4 linked regions of the Homo sapiens genome follow. The protein of the gene in region 3 interacts with the protein of the main gene of each other region in a biochemical or structural test. Each region holds a gene or a part of one and is shown on either strand. Other genes may lie near its edges. The genes, in order: CDC42BPA, MYLK, MYL12A and CIT.

Region 1 (7,041 bases), on a different chromosome or scaffold from region 3:
GCCAAACTGGGTTACCTGACTTGCCCTGCATTTCCTCAGCTCTTCCACCATCCATGGAACCATGTGTCAGAATTAAGGTTTCTCTGGTTTTGGTCGGGCACAGTGGCTCACGCCTGTAATCCCAGCATTTGAGGCGGGAGGATCATTTGAGGTCAGGAGTTCAAGACCAGCCTGGCCAACATAGCCCTGTCACTACTAAAAATACAAGAAAATTAGCCAGATGTGGGCCAGGCGCGGTGGCTCACACCTGTAATCCCAGCACTTTGGGAGGCTGAGGCGGGCAGATCACAAGGTCAGGAGATCGAGACCATCCTGGCTAACACAGTGAAACCGCGTCTCTACTAAAAATACAAAAACTTAGCCAGGTGTGGTAGGGGGTGCCTGCAGTCCCAGCTACTTGGGAGGCTGCAGCAGGAGAATGGTGTGAACCCGGGAAGCAGAGCTTGCAGTGAGCTGAGATTGTGCCACTGCATTCCAGCCTGGGCAACAGAGCAAGACTTGTCTCAAAAAAAAAAAAAAAAAGAAAAGAAAATTAGCTGGATGTGATGGCATGTGCCTGTAGTCCCAGCTATTTGGGAGGCTGAGGCAGGAGAATCGCTTGAATCAGGGAGATGGAGGTTACAGTGAGCATGTGATCACGCCACTGCACTCCAGCCTGGGAGACAGAGTGAGACTTTGTCTCAAAAAAAAAGCTTTCTCTGGTTTAAATAAATAGGTGATTTCTGCTTTTTTGGTTGAACTCTGATATAATCATGTGCGTAGTTCTTTCTTTTGCCCTCATATCAACTTCTAATGCCCAAATATGTGAATTAACAACACATCCCACTTCTTCCTTGTTACAATAGGAAGGAAAAGTTGAGTTTATAGAACCTGCAGATTTTTTAGACCTCACTTGCTTTGTGATTAAAGCCATGGGCACTGGCATGAGACAGGCCTGGTGTTGACTTGTAGCTCCTGTGTCAATTACTAGTTGTGTGATCTTTCACAAGTTAAGATCTCTAAGCCTCAGCTTCTTCCATCGTCTGTGATATAGAGGTAATTTCCCTACTTCATATGGTTATGATGATTGAATAAAACATGAGCTCAAACTACCCAGGACAGTGTTTACAGGTTGTTAAGTGTTCTGTAAAGGAAGCAATTATTAATCAGAAAGTTTCTTTTTTATATACAAGCCCTTGCAGTTGATCTCACTCATGTCAGGAGCCTGACATGAAGACAGGACAGGCATTTGCTGGCATTTTATCCTGGGAGGGTACTAAGCCAAGTCATTCATTTGCAGGGTCAGGATGTGGCTAGGCTAAAAGGAGATGTGGTAAAACATCCTCAGTGTTGCTATACATTAAGCCCTACTGTGGCACGCACCTTGTTTTTGGCTCCGTTCTCCAGCAATGACCCTATAGTTATTCTGAAGTTAGATATACCAAGGTGAGAGTGAGGCTGACTGTTATAAATATTAATTGGTGGATTAATTCTCCTGCTTTTAGCCCTGAATTGGAGGATTAGTTGAAGAGAGCTTGTATTGGGGACTAGGCTTAATGATTTCTGTCCTGCCTTCTTCTTTCCACCTTCCTACCTTCTTGTCTTCTCCTGTCCTCTTTCTTTTCTGAATGGTCAGATTAATTCCCAGCATCTTCATAAAACATTCTCTGATTATTTCAAACAAATTGGGTGTTTGCAGTGGTATACATCTAATCTCCAGGCCCCCAAGCAGAATTTCACAAAGAAGACCTCCTCCAGACTATTTTTCCCCAAAGAATACCCTGCGAGGCAGCCTGTGGCACTCTTGTTTTGCAGGAACACTTCAAGCACTGTACAGCTGCTGGGCTGTGCCTTTCTTTGGCTTAAGACCGGTTTCATTAACAAGCATGTTCACACTTCAACCGGAACATTTAAAATAACACCCGCACAATGTGTTTAGTGTCTAGTTAATTATTAAGTCTCTGAGCTTGAATTATTCAAGCAAAATTGATTGGGTTCAAGCTCCTTCCTTCTCTTTGTGTGTGTGTTTTTTAAAATAAAAATAAATTCTGCTCTCTACTTTCTAAATAATGTGGAAAGGGTTATTTAGCAACCATCAATACCCTGGACTGTGGGTGGTACCCAAGCGCTAATAGAATAGGTAAAGAACTGACAGCTTGACTCTTTTGTTAAAAAAAAAAAAAGTATCTACATCTCATATACTTCCATTGTCAATTAGCATTTAGTGAGACCTAACATGTTTTAGGTTCTCCTTTAAACTTCTTTCTAGTTATTTGTAAGTTGGAAAAGCAGGTATCTTGGAGCCATTTCTTTAGTTAACCGTACTTGAAAAAGCAGAAGAAATTGCTTCCTTCTTTGCTACCGCATCTTATGGTCAAATGAAACTGTTAAAATTGGCTTCACCATTAAAATCCATGTTGTTGAAGAATGTTTGTTGAACTGAAAAAATGTCCATAATATATTGCTAATTGCAAGCAAGAGGCTATAAAACTCTTTTATTATGTATCATTTTTGTTAAAGTGCATAGGAAAAAGACTTGAATAATAAACACCAAAATATTGCTTATTATCTGTGTTAGGATTAAACTTTTCTACTACTTTTAGAATTAGACAACACACACCCATATAAAGATGTCATGGCTGGAAATGACTGACCTTTTGTTTGAATCTAAGTATCATTCATGTCAAGACCGCATTGAAAATAATGCTGTTCTTAAGCCAGGCAAGTGTAGACGTTGTAGATTTCATAAAAGATTCACACTATTTCATGAATCACAACTTGAATCGACTTCTGTTAGCCTTCATTTTACGTCTAGGCCCTCATTTCTAATTCTTCCTCAGCTTCCATATTATCAAGATGTAAGATGCAATTGTGGACATGAACATAGAAACACAACCGCCTCACAGGTGTGGGGAAGGAATATAAAATAATTGTATTTTAGAGAACGACCATAAAGGAGATGGCAATTTTGAGAGAAAGTAACAGAACTGCAATGACCTAGTTTTGTGGTGTTAATTTAAATGTGGCATCTTCCATGAGAATTTTATAAAGGGAGCTCTCCTAAAACCGAGATTCACAAAAACCTGGAAGGGCCCTACAGGGATCAGGTGCCCTAGCTATTCAGCGATTTGCCTTTGCTTCCCTAATTCCTGCATTGTGCCACTGGGTTACAAGTGTGTGTGCGCATGCACACAGGGGTGTAGGTTTGATGACAGTGGTGAACTGCCTTGACTGCCTTCACAGGCTGAATCCCCCGCAGGCAGTAACCATGGCTAGGGAAAAACAGGCAGCCGCGAGGACAGTTCCGGAGGAGACAACACCAGGCTCCCGTAGGGAAACTTTTGGGAATGGAGATGGGGGATTCCATCCTTTGCGTGCAGACCCAAGACTTCGATGGTAGCTCGGACAAGTCTGTCATTGTTTTTGTCCTGGGAAATGACACACGAAGTGCTGTAATTAGACACCTAAGAAACGATTACTCTGGAGTGTGCGCGAACCGAATCTGGGGGGCCGGTGGGGAGCAGGTAAGGGGCTGAAAGGCACCGTCTCCTCCAGCTCTGTCGGAAGCCTAAAGCCCTCTGCTTCTGGGCGCCCTTAACAAACGCGCCAGACAGGTGATGTCTCCGAGGACGAGCAGGAGCCCCCCTTCGCGATCTGCACCAGAAGCCTCGGGGAGCCGGGGCCACGGCGCGGCGGTGGCGCAGTTCCCAGCCTGCGCCCAGTCCCGCCGCAGCTCCCGGCGCGGCCCGGTCATCCCGCCTCCATATGCTCCGCCACCGCCGCCCGGGCCTCCCTCAGCCCTCCCGCAGCTCCGCATTCCACGCTGCGGCAGCCGCAGCCTCGCCGCCTAGGCAGTCCACACCCCTCCCCTCGGGCTGGCGCAGCCACTCGGGCCCCGAGCCCGCGCCCCCTTGGGGGCCTCCGCTGGGCGCGCCGGCCGGACCCCGCCCGGCTTGGCCGCCGGCTGGGGCTGAGGCTCGGGCAGGGCGGGGGCGGGGAGTGGAGGGCGTGTGCGCGCGCGTGTGCCGGGGCCGGGGGGCCAGGCCGCCATATTGGATCCAGACTCGTCCGCAAGCCTCCGCCTCTGTGCGGCGGGACTGGAGGAGCCTCGCTGAGCCCAGGGCGCGAGCGCGAGAGGAGAGGGAAGGCGGGGGAGGGCTGGAAGGGAGAGGAAGGGAGTGGTTGGGAGCCGGGCTGCCGCAGCCTCTAGTCTCCTCAGCCGCGGAAGCGACCCCTCCTCCTGCGCCGGGCCGCCTCCCTCCTCGCTGTGGAAAGATGCCCTTAGCCCAGGGGTGTGAAGAAGGGGGAGAAGTAGCTGCCAGAGCCGCCCGCGCCGCCGCCGCAGCTGCTGCTGCTTGTGTCCTTTGAATTCAGAGAAGCACCCCCCCGCCTGGGGCGTCGGGAGCCTCCGGCGCGGCGGCCCGGTGCGGGTGTCGGGGAGACCGGGCTCTCTGCCCGGCGCGGCGCGGCGCGGCTCGGCCCACGAGCGACCACCGACATGGAGTGGGCTCGGGCGGCCAAGTAGCCGCTTCTCCGGAGCCCGGTGCCAGTGCCGCCCGCAGCCCGCCTTCCACCCCCGGCCGCGCCGCCGGTCAGGCCCTAGGGTGAAGCCGGGAGGAAAATGAAGAGTTTTCACCGGAATCCGTTGAAAATAGGACTGACTGCAAAGCCTTAAAGAAAGAAGGACCTCGGGAGGAGAAACGAAAAGCCGCCTCCGGGCAAGACTTGGCGTGCTCCGAGCCGAGGGGCTGCTTCAGGGACCTCGCCCCCTCCCTTTCCCGCTGGAGAAATTGCCGCTGATGCATTATCCAAGTGGTGGTTGGGAGGATTTGCAGCAACATTTTTGGTTTTCCCTCCCCCTTCTATGCATTCTGTTTTTTTCCTCCCTTTTCTGTTTTTCTTCTTCCCGGGAAGTGAATTGCTGATGCAAATCGGACTTTATTCATTAATGATGCAACCGGATTCGTTTCAGGATTACGTTGCACGAGTTGAATTTTGAATGAAGGAGAAGAGTTTTTTTTTTTTTTTTTAAAGAAGTGTTGACTCTCTAGTTCGTTGTACTTTTAATTATTATTTTATTTAAATATACGACTTAATTGTATTCTTTTAAAAATGCATTAAGTATATATTTTATGGTAATTTACCCTCAAAATATATGTATATGGGTGAAATTGAAGACGCTTCAGTTAAGTGAGGTTACTGGTGTGTTGGATGTTTAATTCAGCACCAGCATTGCATGACAGTTGTTTGAATAACAAGTGGTTTATTTTTAAAACCATACCTTTTAAAATTTAGGTTCAGATAATAGTAAAAGTCATCATAATAATTTAAAGGAAAACCAGCAGAAATCGAAGCAAACATGTCTGGAGAAGTGCGTTTGAGGCAGTTGGAGCAGTTTATTTTGGACGGGCCCGCTCAGACCAATGGGCAGTGCTTCAGTGTGGAGACATTACTGGATATACTCATCTGCCTTTATGATGAATGCAATAATTCTCCATTGAGAAGAGAGAAGAACATTCTCGAATACCTAGAATGGGGTAAGTTTGTAATTTTTAAAGAAACTGTTAATCTTTAGCTGGTCATTATGATTTAATTGGTATAGAGAGTTATGAGTAAACTCTACTCCGTTCAAAGAAAAAATACAATAAAAAAACAGACACTAGTTATTCAAGATTTTCCGCTAGTTTTTGGTAAATATTTTCCCAGGAGTAGAATTGTGCTGCTCAATTGTTGCCTTGATTTAAGGCCTAGCTAATGTGGAACTTGGCTATGAAGAACTTATGTTTTTAGGTCAACAGTAAGAGATTTTAAATCAATTCTGTGATGGGCAAAAGTGGATTATTGGTTACAGTTGCCTAATACATGGCACTATAATAGTCCTTCATTTGAAAGGTATTTATTGGTGGAAACATTCAGACTATGGAAATTATTCTCAAAATAGGAGGAGATATTAAAATATCTGTGTTTGCCTTAGGTCAACAGAAAGCTGAAGGTGGTGATCAGTGGGTTTTATTTCATCTCTACATAGTACAAGGAAAGGAAACTGCTAAACATGGACTTTCCAAAAATTATGTTTGTAAGATTAAATGACATAGTTTAAAAATCTTGTGATAGTAGTTAGAGAATGTTTGGGGGCAGCTTCCACTTGAGAGTTAGATTTTACTCGAAAGTTAATTTAAATCTAAACTGGTTAGGTTTTTGGCTTCATTCTTCTAAATATAGATGTGATTTAGAAGACCTACTGTAGTGGAATAGATCAATGATGTGAGCAAACGCTCCATGACCTTCAAGCTTGAAGGCTTGGCTCAAGTTCTTCAGCGTCTGCTGTTACATACAGGGCACATTCTAAGGTCCAGAAGTTCACTGTTGCAATAAGCACGCATCGTCACCCAGATCTGTCTGTAGTAGTGGTACGTTGGCTTTTGAAGGATTTTGGCCAAATATGATTTTGTACCTTTGGAATACTAATCATTTTAGTTTGTTCTTATGCTAAGTTCTTATGCTAAAATATCTGTTCCCAAGTAAAACTTTATTTTCCTGAAGTAAAAGTCAAGTGCTGATTGTGTCTTTTTTTTTTTTTTTTTTTGGATTTGAAATTTATTCAAAGTTAGTTTCTCAGGTAAACCACTGATACAAGAATGTCTACACGTAATAACTTTAATTATTCAATTTGCCAGTATAAGAAGGTTTCTAGCAATGTGATGTCATAAGGTTTAAAAAAATATGTAAATGTGAATAGAATAACTTTTCAAAACAGACTGCCAGACTCATCCTGGGAATGTAAGAAATCTAAACCATCTTTCAAGTAACTTCTCACTTAAGAGTGAGACAATTTTGGCTTTGGTACTGGTTTTGTGAGTATACGTCTTTTATTTGTTGAATAAAGTATTTTGTAAAGCATATGTAGTTTTACATCCCATGTTTCACAAATTGAGAAATTCTGTAGTGTTAATTTTTTTTTTTAAGACTTAAAGGGTTTTGGTACTTTTAGAGTTGGAACTTGAGTTCTTAAGTTATGGTTCCTTAATGACACTCTAGTCTGTGATTTTTGTCATTTAGTAT
Region 2 (6,972 bases), on a different chromosome or scaffold from region 3:
TGCAAATGGCCCTGCCTCATGTCCTCTGCATGCACCCTCTGCTGGCCAAGTTGAGCGAGGACATTGTCTTTTGTTGGGAAAGGATACTTTTTAAGTGTTGTTTCTAAATTTTACTACATTTGCTGAAAAGACAGGACAGGAAGCTTTTAAGAATGAACAATCTCCCAGCCTGTGTGGGTTGGTTTGAGCTGTGAGAGGTGCAGCTGGGCTTCCAAGTAGGCTTATATTTCCAGACTCCCAAGTATTGTTCTCAGAAAGATACTAAATAAGACACCCCATACTCATGGGACACTGTACCCATGTCCCCAAGCAAGGCTGCATTCTGAAACCCCCACCCCACCTTATGAACTTCCTAAAAGACAGACAAGCCAACTAGTTGTGTTTCAAACTCTAGGCTCATCTTATATTTTGAGGATAAAAGCAAGGGGTCATTCTCAAAGACACTGAGTATATGGTGACCCCAGCGCATTCACAATCTATGCCTCTGAGACCAGCAAAGATCTCCCTAGCCAGAGACCCAGAACCTTTCCCCACCCTTGGAACTCAAAGGCCTCTCCCCTCTGCACCATCTGGGTCACCTCCTTCTCTGACAAGCCTTCTCAGCAGATTACCCCCGCCACCTGCCAGCCAGGAGCCCCTCCTCTGCAGTGACTGTAGCTGTCTGTCTACCATTTTCAGGCAGCAGGTGGGGCCACCTGGCCTTACCAGTTAGCCTAGGAATGTTCCAAGGCCTAGTCTGCTCTGCATATGTTTTCTAAGATCTGGCCCCTGGGGAAGCAGCCCCTGATGAAGGGGTGAGCAAACCTCACACAAACAGCAACTACTCTGGCTGGGTGCAGTGGCTCATGCCTGTAACCCAGCACTTTGGGAGGCAGAGGTGGGCGATCACTTGAGCCCATTAGACTAGTATGGACAACATGGTAGGACCCCATCTCTACAAAAAATCCAAAAAACTAGCCAGGTGTGGTGGCACACACCTGTAGTCCCTGCTACTCAGGAGGCTGAGGTGGAGGATTCCTTGAGCCTGGTAGGTCAAGGTTGCAGTGAGCTGAGATCACGCCACTGTACTCCAGCCTGGGCAACAGAGCCAGACCCTGTCTCAAAATAAAAAATAAAAATAAAAATAAGACAAGGAAACATCTACAATGCTGCAGCTACCCTCCTCCTCAGCTAGCCAGTTATTACACAAAAGAAACTGAACATGGGAGATAAACCAGCATAAATGCTTCCCCACTGTGGGGTGGTTCTCCAAGCTCATGCTTAGCTGCAAATGAGGTCCAGCATCCTTTGTATCATCAGTGAACAATGAGACAGACCTGCACATCTTGGCAAAAAAAGCTCTTGTGCATGTCCCCAGAGTACCCGCTACCCAATCCAGCATCCAGAGTCCAACCACTCCGGACCCAGGACCAACTGCTCAGGTTCCTCCCAGACCCAAGGCTCCTGGCCCACTGAGAGTGGGAGAAAAAGGGGTAACCTCACTCTGGGCAGGAAGGAAAATTCCATGCTGCCCTAGAGCACTGTGGTGCCAGCAGCATCATCCTCCACAGTCCCACAGTGTGCAGGCGGGGAAGAGACTAAGAGAATCACGGAAGAGAGAAGGAGGTCAAGAATTTAAGAGAAAAGAAAACAGTTCTATTAGAACCCTAAATGCCTTGTAGGAACCTAGTAAAGTCACCAGATGCACCTACACTTCTCCCAGAGACTTGCATTGTTGATTCCTGATTCTTTGAAGTGTGGGCGGGGTTCCCCAAATGGTCCTCCTAAGCCCACCATCTGGAAATAATTTATTGATAAGTGCATTTTGACAAAAAGTATTCCATTCAGGTGGAGAAGAACACAGCCTCTCTTGGAAGGGGGATGCAGCTCCAGGGCAGGCTCTCAAAGGCTGTGGGGTGGGCGGGTCATTGCATATACTCTGGTCTTTGCACTTGGGGAGAGGAGGGATGGTAAAAACCAACGGCCTGAGGTCTGGCATCATGCCCACTGCCCAGGTGTTTCCCTACACCCACCCAGCTCCCTGAATCACAACAGCTAATTTTACTCCCTCTAGACTCTAGTAGAGCTGGGTCTTCTCCTTCTGGCTACGAAATAGAAAGTGCCCCGCACCCCAACACACACACCCCAATCTAAAAAAAATATATATCCTTGAAACCATTTCCCCATCAGCCCATCTTCACATCTGCAATGCCACTCCTAGAAATTCAGTCCTTTGGGTCTTGAAGGGTTTTAGTTCCATAAGTTCCAGGGAGGGGTCTACCTCAACCATTGACAACTCACATCTCCTGAGAAGTTTATCCAAAACTTTCCAACTGCAATCATCGGCGAACAAGGTCCCTCAACAATGGGACCCCAGTTAACGCGAAGGAGGCAGAGCGAGGTAAGGAGCTTAAATGAGGAGTATGGAGTAGGAACAAGTCTGCAAAGCCCGCGCCCCAGCTTCGCCTGGGATGGCCAGGTCTGGCACTCGCGGGCCGCCTTCCCCGCCCTACCTTCCCGGAATCACATTTGGGCTGGAAGGACCTTCACGTGGCACCCCCTTCCCAGAGGCCGTCACCGAGTCCTCTAGCGAGGGTCTGGGAGCTGGGAGAAGGGTCCGCTTCTCCTCCGCCCCTCAAATCAAAGGCACCCCCTTCGGATGATTCCTAGAAAGGCAATCGCATCAGTGTCCCCAAGCACTTCATCTCCCCAAAAGAAAACTCGTGCAGCCTGGCGTCACTGGGGTCGTCTCCTTACGCCCCTGACTCCTCGCCGCACCCCGGGGCCCCTCTCCATTAGGGGAGTCGGGAGGCACAGACGGTGGGGGTCCCAGCCCCCACCCAGAACTCCCACCCTCGGAGCCTTGACTTCCAGGGCCCGCGCCTGGACAAAAGCATGGGGCGGGCTCACTCACCCGCGCGGCGAAGGCGGCCCGGGAGCCGGGGCACCGGCGCTCGGCGGGGCGCCCCGGCCGCAGGCGCACAGCGCGGGCTCCGAGCTCGCTCAGCGCCCTGCTGCCGACCGGGCGGCGCGGGGAGCCCGCGAGGCGCGTCCGGGACTGGGCAGGGCGGGGCGGGGCGGGGCGGGGCGGGGGTGAGCGAACCGGCGAGAGAGAGAGCAAGTGGGAGAGCGGAGAGCGGACGCGCGCTGAGGAGAGCGAGTGAGAGCGCGGCGCTACGGGGTCAGGACTCAAACCACCCGCTCCAGCCCCCATGCACTGATTTGCATGACATTTGCATAGCGCTCGGGGAGTGGACCTGCTGCCCTTCCCGCCACGCCCACCCGCCTTCTGCCTCGGAGTCCGGAGCGGAGAATCCGCAGCCAAACCTAGCGCCAGACCCGGGCCCCCCTCGCACTTATCCTGCACCGCCCCAGTTAACTCCTCGCAGGCGGCGGTCAGCGGGCTGGTACTGTCTTGGTGCGTGTCTTAGTCCTACACTGGGAGACCTAGGCCTTAGGTCGGGGTCTGATGCTAGCTTCGTGAGCGTGCATGAGACACTGGCTGCCTCTGGGCCTCAGTTTTCTAATCTGTAAAATGAAGATGTCAGCGGAACCATGGGGCTAAAGTTTTAGTGCTGGAAGGTTGTCTATGTAGTTTTTTTCAGACATCCTCCAGTGGTGCAACTCAGCCCCATGGTTCCTCTGACATCCTCCCTTTGTGTGTGTTAAGAATCTCTCATTGGTTTGGAAGATACCTACAAAGTTCTTTAAATTAAAAAAGGGGAAAGGGGAGGGGGGGGAGGGGAGGGGGAGGAGGTGTTTCTGGTTTTGGCTTGCTTTATATTTAGTTTGCACCCAATATGAAATATTTTATAGCTTCTGATCTCTTCACTTGGACCTTCTTTTGTTTTTTTTAAAAAAACTGTTTACTGCAGGTTAAGGAGTGTTTTTAAAAATTTTTTAATTGTAAAATAAAACATAAATACAGAAAACCACAAAAAACAAATATATAGATATATAGACTAGTGAATTATTATAAAGGGAACATCCTTGTAATCACCACCTGGATCAAGAAATAGAACTCTGCCAGCCACCCCAGGAGCCTCTCCATGTGCCCTACCTCAATGACAACCCCCTTTCTCCCTCCTCCCAAAAGTAACCACTAACCTGACTTTCATGTAGTCACTTCTGCTGCTTTTGTTTTTCTTGGTATCTTCCAAGGGTGCACCTTACCCCTCCCCCCACTCTTTTTTTTTTTAATTTGATTTGCCTTTTCAGTCTTTTCCTTACAATTATTTGTTAAATAACTTAAGCCCTTGATCTGTGAGGTTTTCCAGAGTCTGGGGGTTGCACATTCATGAGGCAATTCAGCATGTTTCTCTGTCCTCTGTATTGACAGCAAGTTGGCAGCTGATCCAGGGTCTTCCTCAGACTGAAGTTTGATGTCTTTTGTAAGATTATAGATGGTTGTGTGTTCTTTTCTTCAAGAGGTACATGATCATGATGTCTGGTGTTTGCTCTTTTTTGAGGTTAACAGCCGTCGATGCTCAATTCCTAGATTCATTAATTAATTGAAGTTTGCAAAATCATGGTATTCTAATAATTTTGTTTTCATTTATTAGTTCATAAGTGGATAAGGAGATGCTTCCTCTCATCTACTATTTGATTACCCTGAGATAGGAAAGGCACGATGAATACCTGCTTTTTTTTAAAAAAATTACCCAGTTTTCAAGTTAAGGAATTGATTCTCTGTCATTCTTAGATTTCTTTAATATCATTATAAATTCATGAATTTAAATATATTTGATAGGTTTCCATCTACGATATTAGAGCTCAAATTGTCCCATCTTTGGCCAGTAGGAGCTTCTTCAATATGGCTCCTGGCTCCTTTTGATAAGATTCTAGTAGTCTTTTTTTTTTTCTCTCTCTCTCTCTCTCACTAGTGTGCAAAGAGCTTCAAAGACCCTAGAAGTCTTTGATAGCTTCCTTGCTATCTGATATGACAAGATGTTCCAGGCACATCTGTACATTTGCTGCCTCAAACCTGGAATCAGCCATTTCTCCAAGAAGCTCTAGTTTTTTTGTTTTTTCTTTCCTTCCTTCCTTCTCTCTCTCTTTTTCTTTCTTTTTTTCTTTCTTTCTTTCCTTCTTTCCTTCTTTCCTTCTTTCTTTCTTTCTTTTCTTTCAGATGGAGTCTCACTCTGTCACCAGGCTAGAGTGCAGTGGCACGATCTCGGCTCACTGCAACCTCCACATCCCTGGTTCAAGGGATTCTCCTGCCTCAGCCTCCTGAATAGGTGGGATTATAGGCACGTGCCACCACACCCAGCTAATTTTTGTATTTTTAGTAGAGACGGGGTTTCATCATGTTGGCCAGGATAGTCTCAATCTCTTGACCTCGTGATCTGCCCACCTCGGCCTCCCAAAGTGCTGGGATTACAGGCATGAGCCACCCCGCCTGGCCAGAAGCTCTAGTTTCTTTTGTTGAAATTTTAAGATAACAATATGAGCACTAGGAGTATTCATTGTTACTAGGTTGGTAACTGTTTCTAGGCCTTTTCAATAGACAGAGCTACTAAAGAATACTTCATTTTTTTATATTCTAGAGAAATATTATTCTTCATAATATTTTCATCAGTTTATATTATTTCCAATTTAATTTCAGGACTGTAGTTTTTACTTAACATATATTACATTAGGACCTCTTTTCTTTCATGTAGAGAATTCTGGTTCTCAAGGACAAAAGGGAGGATGAAATTAGAATATCCCAATTTACTAATTTGCTTTAGTTTGCATTAAACATATAATAATAATCTCAGAATAACAATATTAATACTACCATCATCAGTTTTGATTCTTGAAAACAGTTTTTTTTGCATATGCTATCCATCTTTTATAGTTATACTCTATCTAAATTATCAGCTTCTATAGCCATCTATACCATAATCTTCCTATTTAACCCTAATTTAGTCTTAATTTTACAGTTCTACAATTCTAATCCTAATTAAAGTTCAAATATATATTTAATGCTTACCATTAGTTCCTTATGTTTATGTATCTTTAGTCATTTTGGTTGTCTGAAAGCTTGTCCTCTACTAGATTCCTTAGGAAGGGCTCATGGAAAGAATATGCTCTGAGTTCTTGCATGTTGCTTACAGTTTGTTCATGCCATTTTACTTGAAGGTCAATTTTGTTGGATTCAAACTACTTGGTGTCTTGGTCCAGCTGGGTTGCTATAACAACAACAACAAAAAAAAAAAACACAAAATAAGTGGCTTATAAACAAGAAACATTATTTCTTATAGTTCTGGGGGCTGGGAAGTCCAAGATCAAGGCTCCAACAGATTCAGTATCTGTTGAGAGCCCTCTTTCTGGTTTGTAGACGGCACCTTCTCACTTTGCCTAGATGCCCAAATAACTTTATCTTTTTCTTTCAAATCCAGTAATTTTATTAGAATGTTTGTTGGTCATTCTAGTTTGAAAGTAAACAGTGTGTATTTCTTTCAAAATGTGGTTTCAAATACATATATTTTGTTAATTTCAGGAAAATTTTCTTCAATTAAAGTCTTAAATATTTGTTCTGTTTTGGATTGCTTTAGACTGCTTCTCTGGAGACTTCTATTATCTGCATATTGAACCTTTTTTGTCTATCTTCAACATTTGTCACTTTCCCTTAAATCTTTTTAATTTCTTTCTTCATTTGTTTTTAAGTTTATAAATTTCCCTCCTTTTTACCTTATTTTCTTTTAAGTTTTTATTAGTTATATTTATGTGTTCTTGTGTTCCTTATAGGTCAATCTTTATTTCTCAAATGCTTTTTAAAATGTTTAATTCCAAAAAAAAATAAAAAATAAAACGTTTAATTCTTCTGTGAGTTCTGTTCTAATTTCTGAGTTTCTCTAATTCTGATGTATGTTGTTCTTTCATGTTTCATGTCACTCAGTGTGTATTAGCTTTTCTAGGACATTATAGCTTTAATTTTTTTGAGAATATCTTTCTGGAGGTTATTATGATCTTTATTCACTTTGTTGTAGTAGCTATATGAGAGTTGAC
Region 3 (7,410 bases):
TGAGTTCAGAAAAGATGTTTCTGAGTAATTAAGGGATTGGGGAGGAGGAAGACCTTGAAAAACCCCGTGTGGGATCATTTAGAAGCTACAAAGCATTGTTAGAATGAAGAGATTCGGCTGTTAGTCTCAATTCTAACAAATTAAGGTAGTTAATTCTATCAAAAACTGGCAGTGTAATGTTGAGGAAGTTACTACCTAGGCCTTTACTTTTTCAAGGAGGCTGGATTCTGATCTATGAGTTATTTTCCACCAGAAACCTTTCAGCGATAGGGAGTTTGGCTGCACAGTCACTGTTCCAAAATACAGAAACTGTGGGGTTTTTTCCCTACCAAACTAAAAGTGTGGGGAGAATAAATAATGGTGGAGGGAGTCAAATCAGGAACAGTGCTATGATCTCAAGGAGCAGATCATTTCTGATATTGTCAGGGTCCTCTTTGCTGATTCTAGTTTGTTGTTCATTTTACTTTCCTTCAAACAATTTAGACTGTCACTCTTCATGTAATAAGCCTTCAGCAAATGCACAACTCTCATCGAAGTTTAGAAAACTAGGGTATACCCCTTAATCTAAAAAAGTTGAAATTGCTTTATTATTATACTTTAAGTTTTAGGGTACATGTGCACAACGTGCAGGTTACATATGTATACATGTGCCATGTTGGTGTGCTGCACCCATTAACTCGTCATTTAACATTAGGTATATCTCCTAATGCTATCCCTCCCCCCTCCCCCCTGAAATTGCTTTTTACAAAAAGCAAGCTAGGGTAAAATAAATTGAAAAGATTTCATGTCAATGTAATTATTCTTTAGGATGCAAAGATCGCCAGGTAAGGACCTGAGGTTTCCAAATTACGAAGCTCCTCAATCATAAAGTCGAGTCTTTATTTACTTATTTATTTTTATTTATTTATTTTTGAGACGGAGTCTTGCTCTGTCGCCCAGGGTGGAGTGCAGTGGCGCGATCTCAACCTCCACCTCCAGGGTTCAAGCAATTCTCTGCCTCAGCCTCTGGAGTAGCTGGGATTACAGGCACCCACCACCATGCCCAGCTAATTTTTGTATTTTTAGTAGAGACGGGGTTTCACCACCTTGTGCAGGCTGGTCTTGAACTCCTGACTTCGTGATCCACCTGCCTCGGCCTCCCAAAGTGCTGGAATTACAGGCGTGAGCCACCGCACCCAGCTCGAGTCTTTATTTTTGAGGGATTAAGTGAAAGATCCTTGGTGTCAAGGAGTGTCTGTTGTACGAAACTGGAAAGTAGAGAGACTTACAGAACAGGCTTCTACAAAATATGAGGATTTCAGATGCATGAGAAAGTGGATGAAGGGCAGTTAGGAGACTGAGTTTACAGATCTAAAGGAGCATAACCTTTTTTTTAAGTCAGGCGAGGTGAGCGCTGGTGGCAATGAATCTGGTTTTTATTTTGTGTTTTAGCTCAGAATCATTGTGGGCTGTAACGAGAGATACACAACATGATTAAGGAAAATGTTAGACTAGATTAATAGGTGGGAGAAATAGAAGAGATTCTCAAAGTGGCTTTCCCCACACACCAAAGGACACAAGAAGTTTTCAGAATCTCTAGAAACTATGTTCATTTATAAAATGGGATTAATCCATACCAATATATACATTAGAGTTCTGTGGTTAGAATCCTAGAGTCCAGCATTTATTTACAAAGTGGCAATAAATGTAAAATAACCTAGAAACTTCTTCTACAAAACGAACACTCAAATTGATAATATTCTGAGAAATATCACACATTCTGCAAGAAAAAACCACCATCTTACAAAACACTGCGTACTGTGATAGCACCTAGTATTTGGTGGGCTTTCTAAACCCTGACCAAATATACCGCCTCATTTAATCAATGCACTTAAAAAAAAAAAGCCTAAGTATAACTTATTTTCTGGTGCTAACCACAATTTTTAAAAAGTGTATTTCAAGTTGGTGCTTCCGTTCCAAGTAAACCAAGTTTCATTTCTTATGCAAACTTCCGGTTGAAGGTAGGATTCGTTCTCTTGGACTGCCACACCCAAAAGTTCTCACCACTGGACAAAGACAATTAGCTGTGAGGGCTGACTTGCCAGTAAAGCCTCGCTTTTGAAAATAGAGTGCTTTTCTGATTACCGTTTATTAGAGCCCTTCCAGAACATGAAACAAATACCAATAATTTTAAGAAATATTCGCTTTATTCGCCTTTAAATATGAAACTTTTTGCACTTAAGTTAAAATCTCTGCTAAATCCATAGGTCTCTCAAGAACTGACAGATACATTCATATACCTACTAAACTACTTTAAAAAGAAGACACTTCCATGGCGAATTGAATTAGCCCAAACTTTCCCCCCAAATGGGACAAGGTATTACATTTTGGAGTTTTTCTTCGAGTCACAAACTAAACTCCAGATCTCTCTGTCCAAAATTTCATCGCTTAAAGAAAAAAAGTTCTAATTACAGGAGCGGATACTGAGCTGAAGAACTTCCCAATTTGAGTTGGTTATTCCTACTAAACGCAGCCACACAGCTGCAACAACAGCTGCAGCAGGGGGACAACGGGCTACGTTTTTGCGCAAACCCTCTTGAATCGGGCAAGTTGACGTTAGAAACTAAAATAGTCCCGGAGTCAGCTCTGCAGGGGTCGGGTTTCGCGGGCCCGGCAGTCGCCCAAGCTCAAGGCGCCAGTGAGCGAAGCCACATTTCCAGAGTTCCAAGTTTGGGCACAGGAGCGAAGTTCGGGTCTGGGCCACTCCAAGCCATGGCCTCGGATCCCAGAACCGGGGACCTGGCTGGCACACCTGCCCAGGTGCGCTACCGGCGCCAGGAGCCCCGCCGCCCTCCAGCTGCCCCCGCGGAGACGGGTCCCCGGGATGGGTCTCACGCGCCCGAACGCGAGCGCCACTCACCCGGCACAGCTACGAGAATCCGAGCACCTCTCCGAGCCCCTCGCTGCCGCTATCACACCACCCTGCTACCCAGAGAGCCGCTAAAAACCACCGCTTCCGGCCTCTGCTTAGCAAGCCGGAAGGAAGCCCGGTCACCTTTCTTGGCCCGCAGAGTGGGTCTGACTTCACGGAGGGGCGACAGAGAGGGAAGTCGCCAGTGTGGTCAGCGGGCGTGGTATTGACCAAGTGCATGAGAAGGAAGTGTAAAGTGGGCGACCTAGAATATAGAGCAATATATAATGGTCCTCTGGGTCCTGTTACTGAGTTTCCTTCTTTTTTGTACCTGTTGTTGCAGTGTTAAGTCTTCCTCCCCCCTATCCTTTCCGCAGATGGTTGCGTCCGTCCTGTGGCTTTGCCTGGCCGCACATTCCAGGGCACGGCGAAGGGCGGGGCCCGTCGGCCCAAGTCCTTGTAGGGAAATCGAGGAGAGGGCTGCGGGCCCACGTGACTGACCCTCGCCCCGCCCCGAAGCCGGGCTCCAGCTTGTGGGCGGTAGTGCGCCTGCGCTTGACGCCCCGCGCGGGGTCTGGGTCTCCGCCTGAGGGCCCCGGAGCAGTGCGCGTATCCCGGGAGCGGATCTTGATGCTAGCTCTGTGTGCAGTGTAATTTTATTAAGAGTCCCGCCCCCTCCATACGGGAGGAAACGTGTGTCCCTGGGGCCCTCAGCCAAGCCTCCACTATCTTTTTGGCCCAGACGGATTTCCCAGGTCACAAGTGGCTGGAGACTTCCTCTTGAAAAACATTTGCCGTCGTTTTTCCCTGGCAGAGCCCCTTTGACCCTGGCTAACAAGGACAGCCTGACTTGGATCCCACTATGCAGGAAGGAAGGCGACTCTTCCCCGCACCTCTTGCTACGATTAGGACTTGCGACTTGGTGAAAACAGGAATCAAAACTTGGGCCTATTTCTCCTGAGGTCTGCTTGCCTAGAACAATTCGTAACGATGAATCTTATTAAAAAGAGAAAGTCCTCCCCGACTTTATCTTTTTCCGCCCAGAATCCGATAAGGAAGACTTGTTCTGGCCCCCTCAGCTCTCTGACCTCACCTACCAGAGGAGAGAGTGGGATCCTCTAACACTCGAGCCGTCATCCCAGCACTAGGGGACAGTGACCAGTGTGGCTCCCGTGGCCAGAACCCTTCTGAAGTTTGGGTTGCCCTGTGGTCTTCGCCTTCAAAGCAGGCCGCCACTTGAATCCTTCTGGAACGGACAGTGTTGCTGTAAACGCCGCGGAATAGTATCTTCTAAGTATTCGTAGCTTCTTTCTTGAGGGATCTCGGGAACGTTCCGTGTATTAACCACTAACGTATTCCAAAGTTAACTTCGTGGTAAAGTCGCTGGGGAAAAAAATAACTGCTCCAGTTCCACAGGTGATTGAAACAAAAGTGATCTGTTTCCCAAACTTCCTTGATGGTAAAGAATGACTTGGGGTACTAATTAAAAATAAAAATAATTGCGTCATTTCCAACCTACTAAATCGGAGTCTTTAAGGGCAGGTCCTGGGAAGCCATCCATGTAATGGGGGTCCTAAGTGGGCTCTTATCGGCGAGGGCGGGGACTCAGCGAGAGGGCTGGCAGCGACGGGACAAACCCCAGACGGCTGCGCGGATGCGTTTGTTCCTGGAGCTTGCGAGCACTTGCAATGCATGGACACCTCCACAGGGTGGTGGCCTGCCACCACGAGAGCACCAGCTCCGCCAGCGTCCTCTCCAGAGGACACTTTAGAGCAGAAAGAAACGGACAGTTCAGTCTTCCCCTCAGCTTGAAGGCAGCATTCTTTTGCTTCTCTTTGAGTCAGGTAATTGTTTTGTCTTCCTTCCACTCAGTCAGCAGGTATTAAACAGCAACCGCATTGCCAAGCACTGTGGTGGGGGCTGTGGCTTATGCTTTCCGGAGCAGAACATAGTTGTTGCTACCTTGGGGATGGGGGCGGGAGGAATAGAAAAAATGCGGAGTTAGCGGAGTATCAGGGAACAAGGGTGGAACAGATATAATAATTGCAGTACAGTTAGTTAGGGCCTATTGAAGGAGCACAAACGAAGCGTAAACTTGTCTGGGAACTAGTGGAAGGTGTCCCCCAGGGGATGTTAAAGAGCTAATTCTAGAATTAATTCAGTGGGGAAAGAAAAGGAGAGGGAGATGCCAGGCAGAGGGAGCAGCATGCCTGATTGTCTGGAGGTGATCAGAGGGCCTGGCTGATTGAAGATGAACAGGAATTGTGTAGTCTGTGTTCATTCATTCATTTATTCATTCCACAACTATGGATTTAAAAACGGTTAGTCAACCAATGTGGAAAAATAGCATCTCGATAAAATGTTCTTCAAATGTCCACCTAGTATTTTGATACTCAGTTTTCATGACTGGACCCACCATCAAAGGCCTCTGACTCTGATATTTCTATCCTTTGGACCCTATGGGAGATCTTTGCCTCCATGTGATAATCTCCTTCTCACGTTTTTACTAAAAGTTTGGAGACTTGAATTCTGCTCCAAATAGAGTGAAACAGGGTCTTGCTCTATTGCCCAGGCTGGAGTGCTGTGTTCTATCACAGCTCACTGCAGCCTCCATCTCCCAGGCTCAAGCCATCCTCCCTCAATCTTTTGACCAATACTCATAGTAAGAAATTTATTTCACTAAGAAATACTTGACTACCTATAATGTTTTTCAAGGATTTCTATTCTGTTCTTTTCAATTCTGTTATTAGTCTGCTTTAGCTGCCATACAAAATACTACACACTGGGCGGCTTAAACAACAGAAATTTATTTCTTATACTTCTGGAGGCCGGGAAGTCCAAGATCAAAGTGCTGGCCAATTCGATTGAAGGCCCTCATCCTGACTTGCAGATAGTCAGTCGCCTTCTCCCTGTGTTCTCATGTGGCAGAGAGATCTCACTCTCTTCCTCTTTTTTTTTTTTCCTTTTTAAATTTTTTTTTTTGTATTTTTATTTTTTTACTTTTATTTACTTATTTTTTTGAGATGGAGTCTCACTCTGTCGCCCAGGCTGGAGTGCAGTGGCACGATCTCAGCTCACTGCAACCTCTGCCTCCTAGGTTCAGGTGATTCTTGTGCCTCAGCCTCCCAAGTAGCTGGGATTACAGGCATGTGCCACCACGCCTGGCTAATTTTTTTTTTTTTTTTGTATTTTAGTAGAGACGGTTTCACCATGTTGGCCAGGCTGGTTGCCAACTCCTGACCTCAGGTGATCCACCCGCCTCAGCCTCCCAAAGTGCTTGGATTACAGGCATGAGACGCCACACCTGGCCTCTTTTTTTGTACTTTTAGTAGAGACAGAGTTTCACCATGTTGGCCAGGCTGGTCTCAAACTCCTGACATCAAGTGATCTGCCCGTCTGTGCCTCCCAAATGGCTGGGATCTCTTCCTCTTATGAGCCTTCAGTGTTAATGGAATTAGGGCCGACCGTTATGACTTCATTTAACCTTAATTATATTTTAATTATATCTCCAGATACAGTCACACTGGGGGTTAGGCCTTCAACATATGAATTTGGCAGGGAGGGGACACACAATTCAGTCCATAGCAAATTCTATGTCATTTAATTTTTAGAATACCTCTCAAGGCCCACTAAATGTGAGCTTATGATCCACTATTGCAGTGGTTCTCAATAGTGGAGGAGTGGTGGTTGGGTTTTGCCCTGAAGGAACATTTGGCGATGTCTGGAGAGACAGTTTTGCTTTTCACAAACGGGACAGATACTGCATCTAGTGGGGAGAAGCCAGGGACGCTGCGAAACATCCTACTATGCACAGGACGGCCCTCGACAACAGAACGTTATTCAGCCCAAAAAGTCAGTAGTGCTTAGGTTGAGAAAACCCAGCACTAATCATTTGGAAACTCAATATTTATAGCAATCAATTATTTCGGGAGTACTATAATTTCTACAAGGTCACTATCCATTGCTCCTGCCTCAGAGTAAGGTGGTGGTGTTTTTTTTCCCCAAGTGAGATCTAAAGGGAGAAAAAAATGGAATGGACAGTTATTATTATCTGTGCCTATTATGTGCTAGGTATTCTATATAAACATTTCTAATATATAATTCTTACAACAACCCTGTGAGATAGACATTATTACCTCCGTTTCATTGATTGGGACACAAGCTCAAATACTTGAATGATCTGCACAGGTTTCCCAAAAGGTAATGAAAGAACCTGGGTTATAAATCCTGTCTCTGATTGTCCGGGGGTAGAATAGAAAGGAAAACAGTAAATATGTGGATATTTATCCACATATCTCTAACTCCTAATACAATGCCTAATATCCACAGGTGCCGGTAAATACATGGTAACTGGTCAATTGTTCAAGTGCACATAGCTAGTAAGTGGCCCAGCCCGAAGCCCATATTTTATTTTACTGTACTGTGCTTTCTCCTTTGGTCCAAAGTAGGAAAATTTCGTTACCCAAACAACAGCAAGGAAGCATAGCAGAATGGATCCTTGGTATTTACAACCTAAGTCA
Region 4 (7,025 bases), on a different chromosome or scaffold from region 3:
GGCTGAGGCGGGCGGATTACTTGAGGTCACGGGTTCGAGACCAGCCTGGACAACGTGGTGAAACCCTGTCTCTACTAAAAATATAGAAAATTAGCTGGGCATGGTGGTCGCATGTACCTGTAATCCCAGCTACTTGAAAAGCTGAAGCAGGAGAATCATTTGAACCCGGGAGGCGGAGGTTGTCGTGAGCCGAGATGGTGCACTGCACTCCAGCCTGGGCGACAGAGTGGGTAAGACTCCATCTCAAAACAAAACAAAACAAAAGAAAACAAAAAAAATAACATAGAGGTTGTAGTACCTAATCCACAGGGTTGTTGTGAGGATTAGATGAGATATTCGATTTAAAGCACTTAGCACCTTGCCTGGCTCTTAGTAAACTCCTTATAAAAAATGGTAATTATTGTTAATACTCAGCATAGAATAGTATTAGTTATAATATTAATACTAAATTTGTTTCCTTAATAGTAATTATATTTGGGAAGGTAGTTATGTAGGATACCTGTAAGATGATGAATGATGAAGTATTCTTGATAACTTTTTTTTTTTTCCAAAATATTGGTATTGGGTGTTTAAACAGATGAGAGTGGAAACAAATTGAAAGCTTAGGTTTTTCTGTGGGACCATCCCCATCAGCATTTTAAGTCTTGACATATCTTTCACAAATGAATAGTCTGTCTTTAACCTTAGATGGCTGGAGTGCTGCCACGTTTCAGCCCCTTTATCATGCTACTTTAAAATATCTCCAACTTGCTGGGCGTGGTGGCTCACGCCTGTAATCCTAGCAATTTGGGAGGCTGAGGTGGGTGGATTGCTTGAGGTCAGGAGTTCGAGAGCAGCCCGGGCAACATGGTGAGCCCCTCCGTTTCTACTAAAAACACAAAAAATAGCTGACTGTGATGGTGTGTGCCTGTAGTCCCAGCTACTCGGGAGGCTGAGGCAGGAGGATCACTTGAGCCCTAGAGGCAGAGGTTGCAGTGAGCTAAGATTGTGCCACTGCACTTCAGCACTTCAGCCTAGGCGACAGAGCAAGACCCTGTAAATTAAAAAAAAAAAAAAAAAGAAAAGGAAAAAAATTTCCAACTTATTAAGGGCTTATAGTGTGCTGATTATGTAATAGTTATGGCTTCCAATGTGTCTGGCATAGAACTGGCATGTTTCTGAGTATCTCACTTCAGCCTCATGACAGAGGTAAGGACTATTTTTAATTTAAACTTTAAATAGGAGGCAACAGGCCAGGTGTGGTGGCTCACACCTGTAATCCCAGTACTTTGGGAGGCTGAGGCAGGTGGATTGCTTGAGTCCAAGAGTTCAAGACTAGCCTGGGCAAAATGGTGAAACCCCATCTCTACAAAAAATATAAATAATTAGTCAGGCATGGCGGTGTGTGCCTGTAGTCCCAGCTACTCAGGAGGCTGAGGTGGGGGCATCTCTGGGGCCCCGGAGGCAGAGGTTGTAGTGAGTTGAGATTGCAACACTGCACTCCAGCCTGGGCAACAGAACGAGACCCTGTTTCTAAATAAATACATAAATAGGAGGCAACAGATATAGACAGATATGGAGGTAGGTAAGGCCTTGCCCAAGATCATACACGTTGGGTTTTGCAGATGAGGCCAAGATCAGACTCCATCTTTGGTTGGTCTGACTCCAAAGGCTGACCACATAGCCATTGGGCCACAGCACCTGTGCACGTCAGAATTTATTAAGTATATCTTGTATTTAGTCATTATAACAGGAAGACTTATGGGTAAACCCTCAGTTCATCTCTTTTTAATGCTGAGATCCCCCTGCCCAGTAAAGCTATTATTGCAAGTATAGTATATACCTATCATTTGCCTTGAGTTATCAGGTAAGGATGCTGTTTGTTCTTTTCCCATATAGTGCTGTTTGAATGAGGTTGAGATACAGTAGCAATTTTGTTTTCCATTCAGGTGAGTACCTTAGACTGAGTGTCATTTTGTCTTTTTTACTTCTACTCAACAGGATTTCCTGACATGTTCGAGGTCAGTGATTGTCAGACTTTCTGAGCCAGCAAAATTTCCCAAATTGCTGGGTAGACACAGGTTTTCCAACTTTTTATTTTGCCAAGTAAGGATATATAAAAAAAAAATAAAAAGAAAGACCTATTATTTTCTGGCCCTTGTATTTCATAAAGGGCATTTTAAGAAACAACAAGACAGGAAGAACATCATCTCAGAATAAAGGACCATTTTTAAATTTGAATACATTTAGTTTTATAAAAAAGATATCATGTGGTGTTCATTTTTTCTCATTTCACTGCAGGCTGTTGAAAACTTTGTTAAGAACCAGTACTATATTTGGGAACCCCTGCTTTAATTGATCTAAACTCTTGAAGAATAGAAGAAACAAAGCATTTTATTTTTCTGAGTTACTGGCAACTATTACTAAAGTGACAGATATGGTGGCCTTGAATGCAGTGCTTCCCAAACCTGATTGAGGTCTGACTCTCTTGGGGACCAGGGTCTCATTCTGTTGCCCAGGCTGGAGTGTGGCAGCACAATCTTGGCTCACTGCAGCCTTTACTTCTTGGGCTCAAGTGATCCTTCTACCTCAGTCTCACAAGTGGCTAGGACTACAGGACCATGGCACTACACCTGGCTAATTTTTTTTTGTTTGTTTGTAGAGATGGGATCTCGCTGTGTTGCCCTGGCTGGTCTTGAACTCCTGGGCTCAAGTGATCCTCCCACCTTGGCCTCCCAAAGTGCTAGTATTCCAGGTGTGAGCCACCTCTCCCTGCTGGGGAACTTGTTAATAAAACAGATTCTAGGCTACAGTCTGGAAAATTCTAATTCATTTGGTTGTGGGGGAGGGGGGCATAGGACCAGAGAATGTGTTTGTTTGTTTGTTTGTTTTTCTTAAATTCTCCAGTGCTGTTGTGATTCAAATGCAGCCGGTCTGTTTCTGTTATCAAGTGCTGTGTAACAAAGCACTCACAAAGTTTAAAGCAACAATGATTTATTTTTTCTTAGGATTCTGTGGGTTGGCTGGACTCAGCTAGGTAGTTCTGCTTCATCCTGTGATGTCAGCTGGGGTCACTTGTGGGGCTACATTCAGCTGGGATTATGTCTGGGACTGGAACATGTGGGTGCTGACTGCTGGCTGGGGCACCTTAGTGTTTCTCACATGGCCTCTCTTCTCCATGAGGTCTTTCAGTAGTATAGCCCAGGACTCGTAACTTTTTTTTTTTTTTTAAGACAGACTGTCGCCCTGTCGCCCAGGCTGGAGTGCAGTGGCACGATCTCTGCTCACTGCAACCTCCGCCTCCTGGGTTCAAGCAATTCTCCTGCCCCAGCCTCCCGAGTAGCTGGGATTACAGGCACGTGCCTCCACGCCCGGCTAATGTTTGCATTTTTAGTAGAGATGGGGTTTCACCACGTTGGTCAGGCTGGTCTCGAACTTCTGACCTCGCGATCCGCCTGCCTCGGCCTCCCAAAGTGTTGGAATTACAGGTGTGAGCCACTGCACCTGGCTGACTCGTAACTTTTTTTGTAAGTAATAAATATTTTAGGCTTTGTGGGTCCTGTAGTCTCTGTTGCAACCACTCAACTTGGCCATGGTAGCACAAAAGCAGCTAAAGACAATATGTAAATGATGGGTGTAGCTGTGTTCCAGTAAAACTTATAAAAAGTCCGTGGGCTGGATTTGGTCCAAGGGCTACAGATTGCACACCCCTGGTCTAGCCCAAGCATCTGTGCATGGTGGCTGGCTTCCCAAAAGTGGAAGCTGCTAAGCTGCCTTTTTTTTTTTTTTTTTTTTTTTTGAGAGGGAGTCTCACTGTGTTGCCTAGGCTGGAGTGCGGTGGTGTGATCTCGGCTCACTGCAACCTCCATCTCCCGGGTGCAGGCAATTCTCATGCCTCAACCTCCCAGGTAGCTGGGATTACGGGTGCCTACCACCACGCCTGGCTAATTTTTGTATTTTGGTAGAGACAGGGTTTCACCATGTTGGCCAGGCTGGTCTCAAACTCCTGACCTCAAGTGATCCACCCGTCTTGGCCTCCCAAAGTGCTGGGATTACAGATGTGAGCCACCGTGTCTGGCCGCTTGACAAGCTTCTTAAAGGCACTGCCCTGAACTGGCACAGTGTCACTTGTGTCACATTCTTTTGGTTGAAGAGAGTCTCAGAGATGGCACAGATTCAAAGGCAGGAGAAATAGACTCCAGCGCTTAAAGTAAGGAGTAGCATGTGCCTACAGAATTGGAGGAACTGTTGGAGGCCATCTTTGAAGAGAGACCACCACTATCCATGGCTTGGCACGTGGGAATCACTGCTCTATACCAGGGTTGCAGACTCATGTCTTTGGGGGCCAGGCAGTGAGTATAAATGAGTCAAGTGGGCCAGTTGGAAGATGGAGTCAGACCTGCAGTGAACTCCCAAACACATCTGCTACCGGGAGGGGCAGCATTACTCAGCTCCAGCTCAGCGTCATCAGGCAGGAAGGCGAGGCAGTGTTGCCGGATGTGCCAGTGTTTCAAAAGAAGCCAGAGACTCCATTTTTATTTTTTTGTATGGAATCTCCTGATTTTGAAATATTGGCAGATAATTCAAATTATCTTAAACACTACAGGCCAAACAAAACATATCTGTGGGCTAGAGACAGTCTGCCAGTTTGTAACTATTTCTCCAGATCATGAGTAAATTTGGCTTTACGATGGTCACTCAGTTCTTATTACTCTAGGTTGTTCAAATGAATTAAAAAAGCTGAAATTATATGAATAAACCCCTGGGCACACATGAAAGAAGTGAAAAACCCATTGTTTCCTATTGTAGAAACATGGAAGCATGTCAGAGCCAGAGGATCCAGAGGAAATATTCTCACTAGCCTCAGACCCTCAGGAGTGAGGGAGCTTTTCTTGTTAATGGCCACGCTTGTGCAGTTTTCCTTCCCAGGTGCTGGTGAAAGAAACCCACAGTCTTGGAATCATGGAAGTGATACCATAATGACTGTCAGTTGACGTTGCTTTAAAGAATGAAGCCACAGAATTGTGCTGTTAGCATGTCGTGAGCAGTTAGTTGAGTTGGTGGCTTGTAATTTACTCTGTGTGGATGTTATTGATCAAAGCTTTTCATTATTGACAGTGTCTCCATCTGCTGTTTGCTGTTTTTAGGGGAAACCACCCTTTATGACTCAACAGCAGATGTCTCCTCTTTCCCGAGAAGGGATATTAGATGCCCTCTTTGTTCTCTTTGAAGAATGCAGTCAGCCTGCTCTGATGAAGATTAAGCACGTGAGCAACTTTGTCCGGAAGTGTAAGTTTGGGGAACTTTTTCTTGAAAACTGTCCTGAGAGAGAAAAACTAGAAAGATGCTTGAGGCAGAATGAGTTACTGGTTGATAGTAGTCGGTAAGAACTCTGGTTCTATATAAGACAGATCCAGGTTCAAATTCAGGCTGCACCTCTTATAGCTGGGAGACCAGGTAAGTTGGGCTTCTTGGTTGCAAGCGACAAACTTAATTCAAAGACTGAATTTAGGCCAGGTGCAATGGCTCATACCTATAATCTCAGCCCTTTGGGAAGCTGAGGTGGGTGAATCGCTTGAGCCCAGGAGTTCAAGACCAGCTTGGGCAACATGGTGAAACCCCATCTCTACAAAAAATACAAAAATTAGCTGGGTATGGTGGCTTGCACCCGTGGTCCCAGCTGCTGAGGAGGCTGAGGTGGGAGGATCACTGGAGCCCGGGAGGTTGAGGCTCAATGAGCTGTGATTGTGCCATTGCACTCCAGTCTGGGTGACAGAGTGAGACCCTGTGTGAATAAAAGAGTGAATTTATTGGCTCATGAAACTGAGAAATCCAGGAATGAGTTAAGTTTTAGCTTTAGGCATAGCTAGTTCCAGAGACCTCAATAATATCCCGTGGCCCTGTCCTTATACTCACTCAGGGCTGACTTTCTATTAGGCAGAGTAGGCACGGTGCTTAGGATCTGTGATATTTAATTTTAATGAATTTAATTACTTTTAATTAACTGAATTAAATTTTAATTTGTTTTAAAATTATAGGAAAAATGAATATAATAATGTATAATGATTCTGGATTACATTCATCTTTATACTAATGTAGTCATAAAATATAATTTTTGTTTTTTTTGGAGACAGAGTCTTGCCCTATTACCCAGGCTGGATTGCAGTGGTATATCATGGCTCACTGCAGTTTCAACCTTCTAGGCTCAAGCAATCCTTCCACCCCAGTGGCTGGGACTACAGGCTCACACTACCACGCCCAGCTAATTTTTGCTTTTTTCTCTGTAGAGATAGGGTCTTACTATGTTACCCAGGCTGGTTTCAAACTCCAGGCTTGAAGCAGTCTTCCTGCCTCAGCCTCCCAAAGCTTTGGGATTACAGGTGTGAGCCACCATGCCTGGCCCCATAAAATATAATTTTTGAATTCTTTTTTGTTTTTAATGGAGGAAGGGGCTGAGGAAGGCAAAAGTACCTAGGGCCTATGAAGTCATATATTGGCCTTGCCTTCACCCTGTTTCTGACTTTGCTTGACTTCCATGTGATGAGGCAGTTGGCTGTTAGTGTCCCAGTTTCATACTCTTACATTAGTGTTTTTCAACCAGTGGGTGATTTGACGTTTTCGGTTGTCAGAGCTAGTTGGGGGTGGTGGTGTGTGAGTTTGGGGGGAAGGGTCCTACTGTCAGTTAATGGGTGAGGCCAGAGATGCCACCAAACACCTTACAGTGCACAAAGCAGCCCCCATAACACAGAATTATGTAGCCCACAATGCCAACAGTGCTGAATTTGAGAAACCCCACCTTGTACAACATTGCTGTGCAACCAACCACCCTAAATATTACTGACTTAAAACAATAGTCACTGTGGCTGGGCGCGGTGGCTCATGCGTGTAAGCCCAGCGCTTTGGGAGGCTGAGGCGGCGGATCACTTGAGGTCAGGAGTTCCAGACCAGCCTGGCCAACATGGTGAAACCTTGTCTCTACTAAAAATACAAGAATTAGCTGAATGTGGCAGCGGGCGCCTGTAATCCCAGCCATTTGGGAGGCAGAG

The links.
Region 1: of the proteins of MYL12A (region 3) and CDC42BPA, one has a biochemical effect on the other in vitro, tested with the Homo sapiens proteins (one study listed by IntAct).
Region 2: of the proteins of MYL12A (region 3) and MYLK, one has a biochemical effect on the other in vitro, tested with the Homo sapiens proteins (one study listed by IntAct).
Region 4: of the proteins of MYL12A (region 3) and CIT, one has a biochemical effect on the other in vitro, tested with the Homo sapiens proteins (one study listed by IntAct).

Annotation. Positions count from the first base shown.
Region 1 is NC_000001.11:227,315,480-227,322,520, reverse strand, and holds the start of CDC42BPA (serine/threonine-protein kinase MRCK alpha), read left to right. Parts: upstream 1-4,028; 5' UTR 4,029-5,338; coding exon 5,339-5,516; intron 5,517-7,041. UniProt on the Homo sapiens protein: Serine/threonine-protein kinase which is an important downstream effector of CDC42 and plays a role in the regulation of cytoskeleton reorganization and cell migration. Regulates actin cytoskeletal reorganization via phosphorylation of PPP1R12C and MYL9/MLC2.
Region 2 is NC_000003.12:123,881,313-123,888,284, forward strand, and holds the start of MYLK (myosin light chain kinase, smooth muscle), read right to left. Parts: upstream 3,021-6,972; 5' UTR 2,894-3,020; intron 1-2,893. UniProt on the Homo sapiens protein: Calcium/calmodulin-dependent myosin light chain kinase implicated in smooth muscle contraction via phosphorylation of myosin light chains (MLC). Also regulates actin-myosin interaction through a non-kinase activity.
Region 3 is NC_000018.10:3,243,399-3,250,808, reverse strand, and holds the start of MYL12A (myosin regulatory light chain 12A), read right to left. Parts: upstream 3,009-7,410; 5' UTR 2,900-3,008; intron 1,449-2,899; exon of another isoform or gene 1,366-1,448; intron 1,248-1,365; exon of another isoform or gene 1-1,247. UniProt on the Homo sapiens protein: Myosin regulatory subunit that plays an important role in regulation of both smooth muscle and nonmuscle cell contractile activity via its phosphorylation. Implicated in cytokinesis, receptor capping, and cell locomotion.
Region 4 is NC_000012.12:119,867,303-119,874,327, reverse strand, and holds part of CIT (citron Rho-interacting kinase), read left to right. Parts: intron 1-5,126; coding exon 5,127-5,268; intron 5,269-7,025. UniProt on the Homo sapiens protein: Plays a role in cytokinesis. Required for KIF14 localization to the central spindle and midbody. Putative RHO/RAC effector that binds to the GTP-bound forms of RHO and RAC1. It probably binds p21 with a tighter specificity in vivo.